Homo sapiens: one gene and its partners. The protein of the gene in region 1 purifies or fractionates together with the protein of each later gene. This does not show direct contact. Each region holds a gene or a part of one and is shown in the gene's direction. Other genes may lie near its edges.

Evidence for each region.
Region 2: the proteins of B3GNT2 (region 1) and FAM3C purify together in Homo sapiens (affinity purification with mass spectrometry; 4 studies listed by BioGRID and IntAct, with this or other methods). This does not show direct contact.
Region 3: the proteins of B3GNT2 (region 1) and PAM purify together in Homo sapiens (affinity purification with mass spectrometry; 3 studies listed by BioGRID and IntAct, with this or other methods). This does not show direct contact.

The regions. Positions count from the first base shown.
Region 1 is NC_000002.12:62,198,959-62,202,716, forward strand, and holds part of B3GNT2 (N-acetyllactosaminide beta-1,3-N-acetylglucosaminyltransferase 2), read left to right. Parts: intron 1-3,758. UniProt on the Homo sapiens protein: Beta-1,3-N-acetylglucosaminyltransferase involved in the synthesis of poly-N-acetyllactosamine. Catalyzes the initiation and elongation of poly-N-acetyllactosamine chains. Shows a marked preference for Gal(beta1-4)Glc(NAc)-based acceptors.
Region 2 is NC_000007.14:121,348,245-121,351,333, reverse strand, and holds the end of FAM3C (protein FAM3C precursor), read left to right. Parts: intron 1-64; coding exon 65-191; intron 192-783; coding exon 784-873; 3' UTR 874-2,456; downstream 2,457-3,089. UniProt on the Homo sapiens protein: May be involved in retinal laminar formation. Promotes epithelial to mesenchymal transition.
Region 3 is NC_000005.10:102,758,254-102,762,011, forward strand, and holds part of PAM (peptidyl-glycine alpha-amidating monooxygenase isoform e preproprotein), read left to right. Parts: intron 1-3,758. UniProt on the Homo sapiens protein: Bifunctional enzyme that catalyzes amidation of the C-terminus of proteins. Alpha-amidation is present at the C-terminus of many endocrine hormones and neuropeptides and is required for their activity.

The DNA.
Region 1 (3,758 bases):
GAAATGGAGTCTCACTCTCCCGCCCAGGCTGGAGTGCAGTGGTGCAATCTCAGCTCACTGCAACCGCTGCCTCTTGGATTCAAGTGATTCTCCTGCCTCAGCCTCCCCAGTAGCTGGGATTACAGGCATCCACCACCACGCCTGGCTAATTTTTGTGTCTTTAGTAGAGACAGGGTTTCACTGTGTTGGCCAGGCTGGTCTCGAACTCCTGACCTGGTGATCCACCCGCCTAGGCCTCCCAAAGTGCTGGGATTACAGACGTAAGCCACCGCGCCTGGCCTTAGCTTTAAATGTTTTCTAGCAATGCTAGGGTTTCATGAAAATCCTAATTTAGGGATGCTGATCCACAGCTGTTAATACTCTTGACATACTGGGTCAGTGCTTTTCATTCTTTCTGACTTGGTTAATGGATGTAGTATTTGACTGTATTTTTCTGTATTTTTTTGATGGTTTTATTGGAAAGTCTGTTAGAGACTTTAAAAATTAATAACTGCCTATGGTTACTTTTATAAACATTGAGACCTTGAGATCTTGCAACTAGGATAATACTTGGTGATGTGTAATCTATTGCAACATCCCTGATGGTGGTACATACATCACCAATACTGAAAGATTCTCATAAAGGCCTTTTGGTCTCTTATGTAAGTGCCCAGGGGAAACTAAAGTCATTTGGTTGCTTGGTATTTTTGGTGTGTACAGAAGGTTAAAACATGAATTAAACTAGACTCTGAAGTGGTAAATGTTTCCTGGCTGCATCCAGTAAAGAAAACAGCACAAACACCCAAAAGGTGTGGACCCAGCTGTCTTTTTCTCCACTCTCTAAGGTGGGATTGCTGTTCCTACGTACTTGCCAAATATGTCTGCAAATTACAGAATGAATACATTCCTCTCTCTGGAGAGGCAATTACTGTTTGAATAAGAGGTGTATGTATGTGTGGGGTAAGGTTTTGGGAGAATTGATGTAATGATTTCATCATCACTCACTGGTAAGGAGACTTTGCCAGGCTGGAACCTGTTACTTGATGGAGAATTTATTATTAGGGCTTATGTGGCACAATTACTTTGCTGCTGGAAAAAGTTATTTGTACTGAGTTTTCTATTTGTTACAAATTTTAAGAGTTGAGATTTTTGCCCTCTGTGTGTTGCCCTGTGAGTATTAACAACCTCTGCCCACCAGCTTTGTCTTTTTGCCTTGTCTTAATTTTTGTAACAAAAATTCAGATGTCTTTTGAGAGTCATAACATGTATCTTGTGCAATTTTAGCTTTAGGTATTTTCATATATAACTTTAAGAATGTTACACATTATTTTCTGTGCATCTATAACTTAAAAAAAACAAAAACCATTTTCTGATGTGGCTACAGAGGGGGAAATTCCCAGTAGCCAGGAAATTGATACTTTCTACTTTTCATTCTGTGGCATTTTAAAACAGAGGGTTCAGGTGTCTTCATTCTGATATGAGTAGGATGTACGTAGCTTACCAGAATGTTTGAAAAAAATGATAATCCAAGGTAATCAATTCTGGCATGTGGCTAGATTCTGTCCGAGTGCCATGTGGTGGTTTAGTGGTTAAGAGCATAAACTTGGAGTCCATAAGATGAGGATTTTTTTAACTTCATGTATAACATGCAGTAAAGTGTGAGAAGTGTTAATATTAAGCATGAGCTCATGTATGTAAGCTCTCAGATTAAGAAATAAACATTTTCAGTACTGCAGAAGGTTCCTGCGCCCATGTCTTGTCCGTGTTCCCACCCCCTCACCCTGAAGGAACTGTTATTCTTTCTTACATCATCATAGATGTGACTTCTGTCATCATAGATGGGTTTTACCTGTTGAACTTCATGTAAGTGGAATCAGTCATACAGTGTGGCATGTAGTCTTTTGTGAAATAGGCTTGAATTCTATTTTTACCACTTATTGTGTGACTACGGACAAGTTATTTAATCTGAGTCTCAGTTACGTATGGGAATGCCTAAAGTTAAAATTACACGAACTATTTCAGGATAAATTTTCTCACTTGTAAAATGGGGAAGATAAAGCCCTATGTTAGATTTACTGGGGAAAGTAATATAAAGCTACACCTAGAATACCTAGCACTGTGCCTGACTGCAGTTTCCTCTTCCCCTTTTTATTTCTTTAACAGGGTGATAACTAAAGCAACTAGATCTTTTGTGTTTAAATGAGCTATTTCATTAAAAGTTCTGTAGGTCTTTTATTGAAAATTAGAAGACAAATCTTTATTTAATACTTTGTTGATATAGCTTTAGCTTTAAGATGTATTATTTGTTAGTTGCCTGTTTTTGACATTTCCTCTCTAAAGACAGTCATTGAAATGTCCCATTCAGAGTTGTTTGGCCACCTGTGTAACATGAGCTAGGATGCAGTGATGAGAACTGGTTTATGGTCAATTATGGAGCTTGTGGAAGAGTTTAGTTTGGGTAAGAGTCATCAATAAGTGCCCAAGATGCTCACAACATCTGCTTTATGTTTAGTGAAATAATTATTTCAGAGGTGAAAGCACAGGACCAATTATTTTAATTGCTTGCTTCAGACAAGCCACTTAAAACATTTTCAGCTCTTGTAATCTTACCGTGTAAGCGGTATTACATAATTCCATGGCCTCATGTCTCCTTATTTGTTTGGTACTTTTCATTTTTGGACTCATTCTGCAAATGTAACTTGGGTAGTACTTGGCATTCTTTCTAAATGACTTTCATTAAATGTTTATTTAGAAAAAGTATTCAAGATAAAGTAAAGGAAAATAAAACTAATTCCACCCTCTCTCACCACTATAACTACATTAACTTGATGTGGGTCCTTCTAAGTGCTCATTTCTTCTTTTGTACACTTCTAGAATGACCTTAGGAAAAACATACTTCCAATACTTTATGGAAATTTAAAACAAAATATGGGCCTGCTTAGAGATGTCTAGCAGAGAAGGCAAGAGTCTTCGTAGGCCTAAGTTCAAATCTGTCCACACTGTGGTCCCTACTTGTACCTTTGTTAGTGCTGAGCAGACAGTCCCCAGAGACTCCATCAGAGGGTCCCCTGGTCTCCAGATTACAGTAGCCAACACGGAAAACCTGCCCTGGAATACTTCTCCATTAAGACCTCAAGATGTTTGGTGAAGTGAGCAGTTTGTTCTCCGACCAAACACGCATTGATTGAGCACTTGGTGTGTGCCTAGCACTGTGCTTGGCTGTGCGTGATTGCTGCCTTCAGTGGGCAGTGTGGTGGAGACAGCCAGGAACTGGTAAGATTGCCTTGGTAGAGGTGTAAGCCAATTATGTGTTGGAGGCAGCCAAGAAAGGCTTCTTAAGGAAGTGGCCTTTGGGCTTGGTCTTGAAGGATGTGAATAACATTTCAGAGGCAGAGAAAGGAAGGTAGAAGTGCTCAAGGGATTGTAGGCTGAGAAAACAGGACACAACAGAAAGGCTCATAGAGGTCTTTTGGGGAAACAGCAGGTGATCCATTGGGTTTGGAGTGCATGGTGCTTAGAAAGGTGTAATAGGCCATGATGCAATCTCGGGGATCATGCAGAGATGTGGCAGTTAATAGTTATGGAGGTAGTGAGGAACCAGTGAAAGTTCTTGTGGTCAGGGGAGAGAGAGAGAGGGTGTGGGTGCTGACAAGTTATGGCCAGGCTTGCATTGAGGAAGATGGGCCTGAGCGTGAATGAGGCGAGCCTGACCCCGGGCAGGTCATTGCAGTCCCTGCGTTCTCTGCTTCCCATTTGCCCCCTACCAGTTTCTCTCAGAA
Region 2 (3,089 bases), on another chromosome or scaffold:
GTGAACCAGTATTAGCATACAGTTCCCTCTGTTTATTGTTGTATTCTTTCTCTCCCTCTTCAAGACTCAATGATGAGGCACGGCGGCTCATTGCTGATTTGGGGAGCACATCTATTACTAATCTTGGTTTTAGAGACAACTGGGTCTTCTGTGGTGGGAAGGGCATTAAGACAAAAAGCCCTTTTGAACAGGTTAGTGTCATAGACTCTCAGAATTAACAAAAACAAATTCTGTGAAACCTTACGGTACATTTTCCCATCCCAGCTATTTGAAAATTAGATAAAGCGGATAGTAAATATGATCATATATTTGTCATAAATTCTTGGTAATCAGTTATTTGAAATAACTATCGTACTTTTAAATTTCAAAACTTGAAAATTCTGCATGGGAATATTTTTTCCTACAGGACAATGCATTGGAATAGGATTACCTATCTTAAGCCTTTTCGGAAGCTTTAGTTATTAAGGATTTTAATTGAGCTTTGGATTTTAGAATCAGTGAAGTTTGGAAATATTTTAGAACTTAGTAGAATGTAAATGTTAGTTTTTGAGTAGCAAATAATCCTTTAAAAGCACGTGCAATGTATTCTTTCAGCTGTTATTTGAAGGTCTGCCATGTATGTGATACAGCCTGAGGGTCACTCATTTAATATCTTGACCAGTAATTTAAATGAACTTATTGTTGACATGAGTATTACTGAAATGAGAAGTGTGTAAAATGTTACGGCAAATCAGCAGTTTACAACGGTTTTTTAAACTGTATATTATTACTGTGTTCCAATAGCACATAAAGAACAATAAGGATACAAACAAATATGAAGGATGGCCTGAAGTTGTAGAAATGGAAGGATGCATCCCCCAGAAGCAAGACTAATGGAAATGTGGAGAGAATTGAAGAAAGCGCACTTTCACTCTTAATGGGAGAGCTATAAATGGCAGAGCTATGTGTAAATATTTTAAGAGCATGCAGCCATCTTGGTGTGTGCATGAGTATTGTCTCTTTTGATATCAGGATTATTTATTGCTAACGTAAATAGATAGCATTGTAAATAATCATCACAATGATCAAATCACTGAACCATGTCTCCGCACATTTCCCTAAAAGTACAATGTTTAGACTGCTATGGTAATACATATTTTAAATTCTAAAAGCATACACAATGTGTAACTGAATGGTTTGTGAAAAATATATTGATATATATACTAGTTGCTATGAAAATATCATGGAATAATAGGGATTTTAGGGTGGATACTTTATTTTCTTTTATGTTTCTATATGTTGCGTTGTGATGACATTATCTTTTAAATTAAAAAGAGATTTGGCTAGTTGTGTGTGTAATGTTACTTTACAGTCCGACTCTCCTGATGTACCTCTTTTCATGATCTTTTTCTTTCCTTCCCAAGAAACTGAGGAATGTTTAATATGAAAACATACATCGGATATGTGAAAAGCACAACAAAATTCTTAATGTACACAGTAAAAAAGTAAATATATAAATGTAGATGGCATTTAGGACCACAGCTTGCTGGATTTGTGTTAGCTATGGGAATAACTTGATTTTGTATAAGCTATTTAGAGTGAGGCTGGAGGTGGCAGCTTCACAGAACTGGAGAACCAGGCCAAGTCCCCTCCCCAACCTAATTAGGTCATTCAGGACAGCTAAGTCAGTATATTTAGAGCAATACTAGCATACGTTTTTCTTAATTGTTATCAGCATTGACCAAGTGGTTTGGAAGGAGGCATGCTTTAATATCACAATAATTTTGATTTGTAAACCAAGAAATTAATCCTGTGTTTATCTAACTTCATAATAGCAATTATTGCCCGAAGCTATAGTGGCATATTTACAAAAGTTCTTATTACTGGGCGGACTGATAACATTTAAAAAATAATTGTGTTTGACCCCAAATGACTTTATACCCAATTCTACATAAAAATATAGAAGATCTATCTTTTTTTGTTACCTTCAGATGTTCACTAAATAACTCAGTTTTTAAGCAGAAGTTTTCAGGGCATTAAATATATGTTGTGTATGAAGTATCTCAAACTGGAACATAAATTTAGTGATCAAACTGCCATTCACAGTGTAAGGCAGCACTTAAATTTCGAACCTAAAGTTTAGATGCATTGTATAAAAAAACCTAAAAGCAGTATCTGTTATTTAGCTGTAAACCAAGTTGGAAGCTATTCGGATAATTTCTTAAATATTGATGAACTTTGGAGTACTGTTTCTTCCTTCAAACTGAATGTAATTAATTCATGAATAAATGCACCTTATATGTTTAAACAATCTTTGTATACTTTTGGGATTTTTGGTGCTTATATGCTAAATCACATTCAGCATGTGTATTTTGACATTTAAAATACTTCCCTCAATTCTGTAAATTAAAAGAATAGTTATTTTACAGTTCCAGGGATTGTGAAATAAATGTTGCAGTTTTTTAAAATAATGAAAATAAATACTCTTGGTTTTGCTTTGTGAATTTTTTTTTTTTTTTGTATTATCTGGCAAAGTAATATACCTACAGAACTTCACAAAAACTCACACAAGGTTTTTCAAGCATTTATTATACTGCCTAACTTGGAAAAAAAATTGTTGCTGTGGTTAAAAATAGTAATATCCTAGATGTGTCTTAACATGTAAGAAGCTAAGTATCTAGATGGCGGAAAAAGCCCTTTTATTAAGACTGTAAAAGGATAGCTTTTCCAGATATATAAAATGTTAAAAGAAGACAAAGATTGGTTATGTTAACTGGTGTGGTTTCCTTTTGTCTCAGTTCAATCTTGTATAGATTGTGCCAACTTAACTTTGAAAGCAATAACTTTATACTACATTTTCAGATACCTCTTTAAAATCGGTTTTAGACATGAAACAGTGCTCATTTAATATTAAGAATGTTCTTTATTAAAATCAAATTAACATTGACATAGTATTTGAAATGGTGCTTATGGGCTTATCGATGCATATTTTTTATTTGTAATCCGATGCTGTCCCAGAATAAGTGTATTGTAATGTGAATGTTAAAATTGAACAAGAGAAAGCAGGAAAATAAGTGGTATTTGGGAAATTAAAGGAAGATTGAACCAGA
Region 3 (3,758 bases), on another chromosome or scaffold:
CAGAATTTATTAGGCTTTACATACTGGGCTTTGAGGCTTTGATTGGACTCTCACATTAAGGCATGGCAGGCTGAGGGGCAGCCTGAGGGACATAATGTTAACTTTACACTTGGCTTTATTGTTCCATACCTTTGTTTTTCTATTTGTGAAATGAGATTAAAGATCCTTCTTACTGCCCTGGAAGCCGTGTCATCTGGTATAATAGCCATAAATGCTTCTTGTGTGTATAAGAACTTTCTTTACCATTTGAATGCGAAAGCTAATTATTAAAACCACATACAAATAGCTCAAAAGATGGGCTGTGAATAAAGCTGCTGTTGGTGTCATGTGCTCTCAGGTATCCTGGCAGAAATTTCAGTCATCATGTATCCCTACAATTTACTGTGTTGTGGAGAATAAGGCCTTCATTTTATCTGGGGTTGAATGTTTACCTCTCCAAAATGGGAATAATGAAATACTAACCTGAAAGGACTGTTGTCAGCATTAAATGAGCTAATCCATGTGTGGTTCTTAGCACATTGCCAGTATACAGCTATTGCTCTATGACTCAAGTAGTTATTTTAGTTTCTCCAGGGTAGGGGGAGGGGGGAAGGAATGGAATTTCAGTGGTCCACATTTTAAAAATGAATACATATATAAAAATATAAATACACTCTTCCCCAATATTTTGAAATAGCCATTCCTCAGCTAACTTTTTTCATTCATTTATGCAACAAGTGTTTATTCAGCCCACACTAAACGTTTGGCTTTTTCCTAGGCACTGACATACAATGGTATACAAGACAGTTATAGTCACTTTCTTATGACTGAAAGGTCTAGAGAGGGATGCAGATCTGTAAACAGAGAATTATAAATTTATAAAGAAAATTTTTAAAAAATTATAATGCCATATGATTCATGCCATGATAAGGGTAGTGAAGAGAACCTCAGAAGATAGGATAGCAGGGTCCTGGGTAGGTGAATGTCACACAGTGCATCATCTCATCCTAATTGGGTTGGTGGTGGTGAAGGAAAACTTCCTAGCAGCATGAATACATGAAGACCTGAAGCATGAGTGGTAGTTAGCAGCTGAAGAGGTGGGAAGATTGAAAGAGACCAAAGGGAGCATGATGCCTTAGAATGGAAGTCAGGCAGAAAATGTTAAACAATACATAGGTAAGAGCAGGAGGGAGAGGCGTGGCAATCTGGAGAATCCAAGCTGTCTAAAGGGAAAAGTAGATACTCATTTCAGCCAAGTATTGTCAGGTTGGGATGCAGGCCAAGTGTTGCCAGATGCCTTGATTTCTAAAGAGGAGCTTAAAATTCATATTTTATAAATATGAAATCTCCCAAATATGAACTAACCCAAATGTTTTAAAAACTATTCTGTGGGCCAAACCAGACAAATCTGTAGTTGGAATTCAACCTAGGGCCACCACTTTATGACCTCTACATGTAAGAAACTGAGAGGAGTTTAATGTGGCTAAAGGCATAAACCTTAAACGGACAAGCAAGGGAAGCACTGGCTTTGTGGAACTTGCTAAGGAGGGGTGGCCTAATTCTAAGGACAGTGGGTGACATTGAAGACTGAAACAAGATGAGATTTGTGTTACAAGATGCAGTCTAGCTACTGTATAGAGAATGAGTGGGAGGAGGCAGTGGTGGAAGAAAGATAACCATTTGGAAGCTTACCGTGGTCATAGGAAGAAATTAAGTGTGGCTAAAAGCAAGGTATTCAAGCAGGTGGGAGATGAGTGGATTTCAGAGATATGTATGATACCCCTATGTTGGGATTCAATTCTCCATTAGTCACTCAGACTTTTGCATGTCTTGTGAGCAAAGGCATTTACTGCTTTCATCCCAGACTCTCTTAAAGACATTTGTATGGTAGATAGTTTTGGAAGATAGAGGTATTCTTTCCCTCTGAAGCAAAGGGCAGGTAGGTTTTACTGTCCAGTTTAAAAGATTCAAGTACCCTAAGCTCAGGGTTCCCCTCTGACAATGCAGATCATCAAGTATCTGCTTCACATCACATGGGGGGAACTGAGTTTCAGGACATTGGCACAACTATGCTGATACTACTGCTACTGATATTTTTGTGAGTAGTATAGTCCTTTGTTTCTCACCCTAGAATTTTCTGTCTTCTTCCAGCATCCCCATGAAACTGTGGCACCCTGATTTCGTTAGCCTGCAAGTAGGATAAAAATCTCAGACCCTTAATTATTGATAGCCACTAGCCACATTGTCTGTTTAAATTTAAGTATAAATTAATTAAAAATGGAATACGATTTTAAAAATCCATTCCTCAGTTGCAGTAGCCACATTTCAAATGCTTAATAGCCATACAAGGCTAGTGGATACTGTACTGGGCAGAGAAGATATAGAAAATTTCCATCATTGCAGATAGTTTTATTGGACATTGCTGGTTTAAAGCTTCAAATTTTGTTTGTGTTGGTGAGTGAGTAGAGACAGTAGAAGTTGTTGATTTCGACAGCATAAAAATGATGTTTGACTTCATGTTAGATTCACAGGAGTCCCTTTAATACAAAGAAAATATTTCTGTTTGGATAACCTATACAGTACTTAGTTCAGGCCTCTTGGGGAAAAGAAAAGTGGAAAAGTATCTACACTGTCAATTTGGAGACTGGGCAGACTGGGACCATGTAGCAACAGAAGTTCTACATATAAACAGCGTTACTCAAATCATGTGTGATTGTGAGATTAGGATCTGTGCCCAAAGGAGATTGAACTGCTGAACACTGTCTTGAGCTTTGTCTACTAACCATGCTTAACACAAAAGGACAAGAATTGCATGTTAACAGTGAGGGTCTGGAGCATAGCCAGTCCAGCAGCACCTCGGCAGTGCCTGCTGCAACCCAGCTGTGCTGGTGTGGTCTCACAGAAAGGATGGAGGACAGGAACAAGATTTCCAGATGGCTCTTGTTCAGGGAGTTTAAGAGGGTAGCTTCAAGAAAGGAGGGAACTGGACTCAAAAAATATAAAACATAATACTTTAAAGTACAACTTTAAATGACACCGCAGAATTAAGGAAACAATCAAAGCAGCAGATCTGCTTCCCTATCAGATAGGAGAAGCTCATTTTGTAGAGAGTGTGGGCCACAAGTACTGGGAAGCAAATGCACAAAGAATAATAGGTCCAGCCAACAGTTGCAGTAACAAAGGACGGTTTTTACCTGCATTGAGTGTACAGTTCACTGCTGCATGTACAACATAAGCAAAACAAAAACAGTGGTAGAAATAAATAAAAGTAAAGTCTGAGGCCCTTATGGAAGAATCATACTACTACCTGCTTTTTCCGTGGCTAAAAATGCCTTATAAATTTCATATCTTGAGAATTTCACTTATTTATGCCAAAGTAAGTTTGTTTTAAAATAGTACTCATTTGTAGTGCAGTAACATTTTACTTATATAAAGATTAATTCAAGCTTTTAAAAGTCTGAAGTTTAGAATATTTTAAAGATAGAATTTATTATTTTTAAGCACTTATGTTATCTTTTAGAACTCTTTTGAAGGGAACTTTTATGAAGATATTAGTTAATTTTGAATAGCATGATAATTGTTGCATGTAACTGGAGGCTTCTATAGTGTTTAAAGAAAACTTTTTGTAGGTTATATGTATACCTGTTATTTACATTACTAATTACATCAACAAATCCTTATTTTCATAGACATTCCTTTCAAATTCAGTGAATTCTGGGAGAGCCGAGGTCATATGCTATTAGGGTTTGTATAAAGGTAGAGTCCCTTGCATAAAGCAG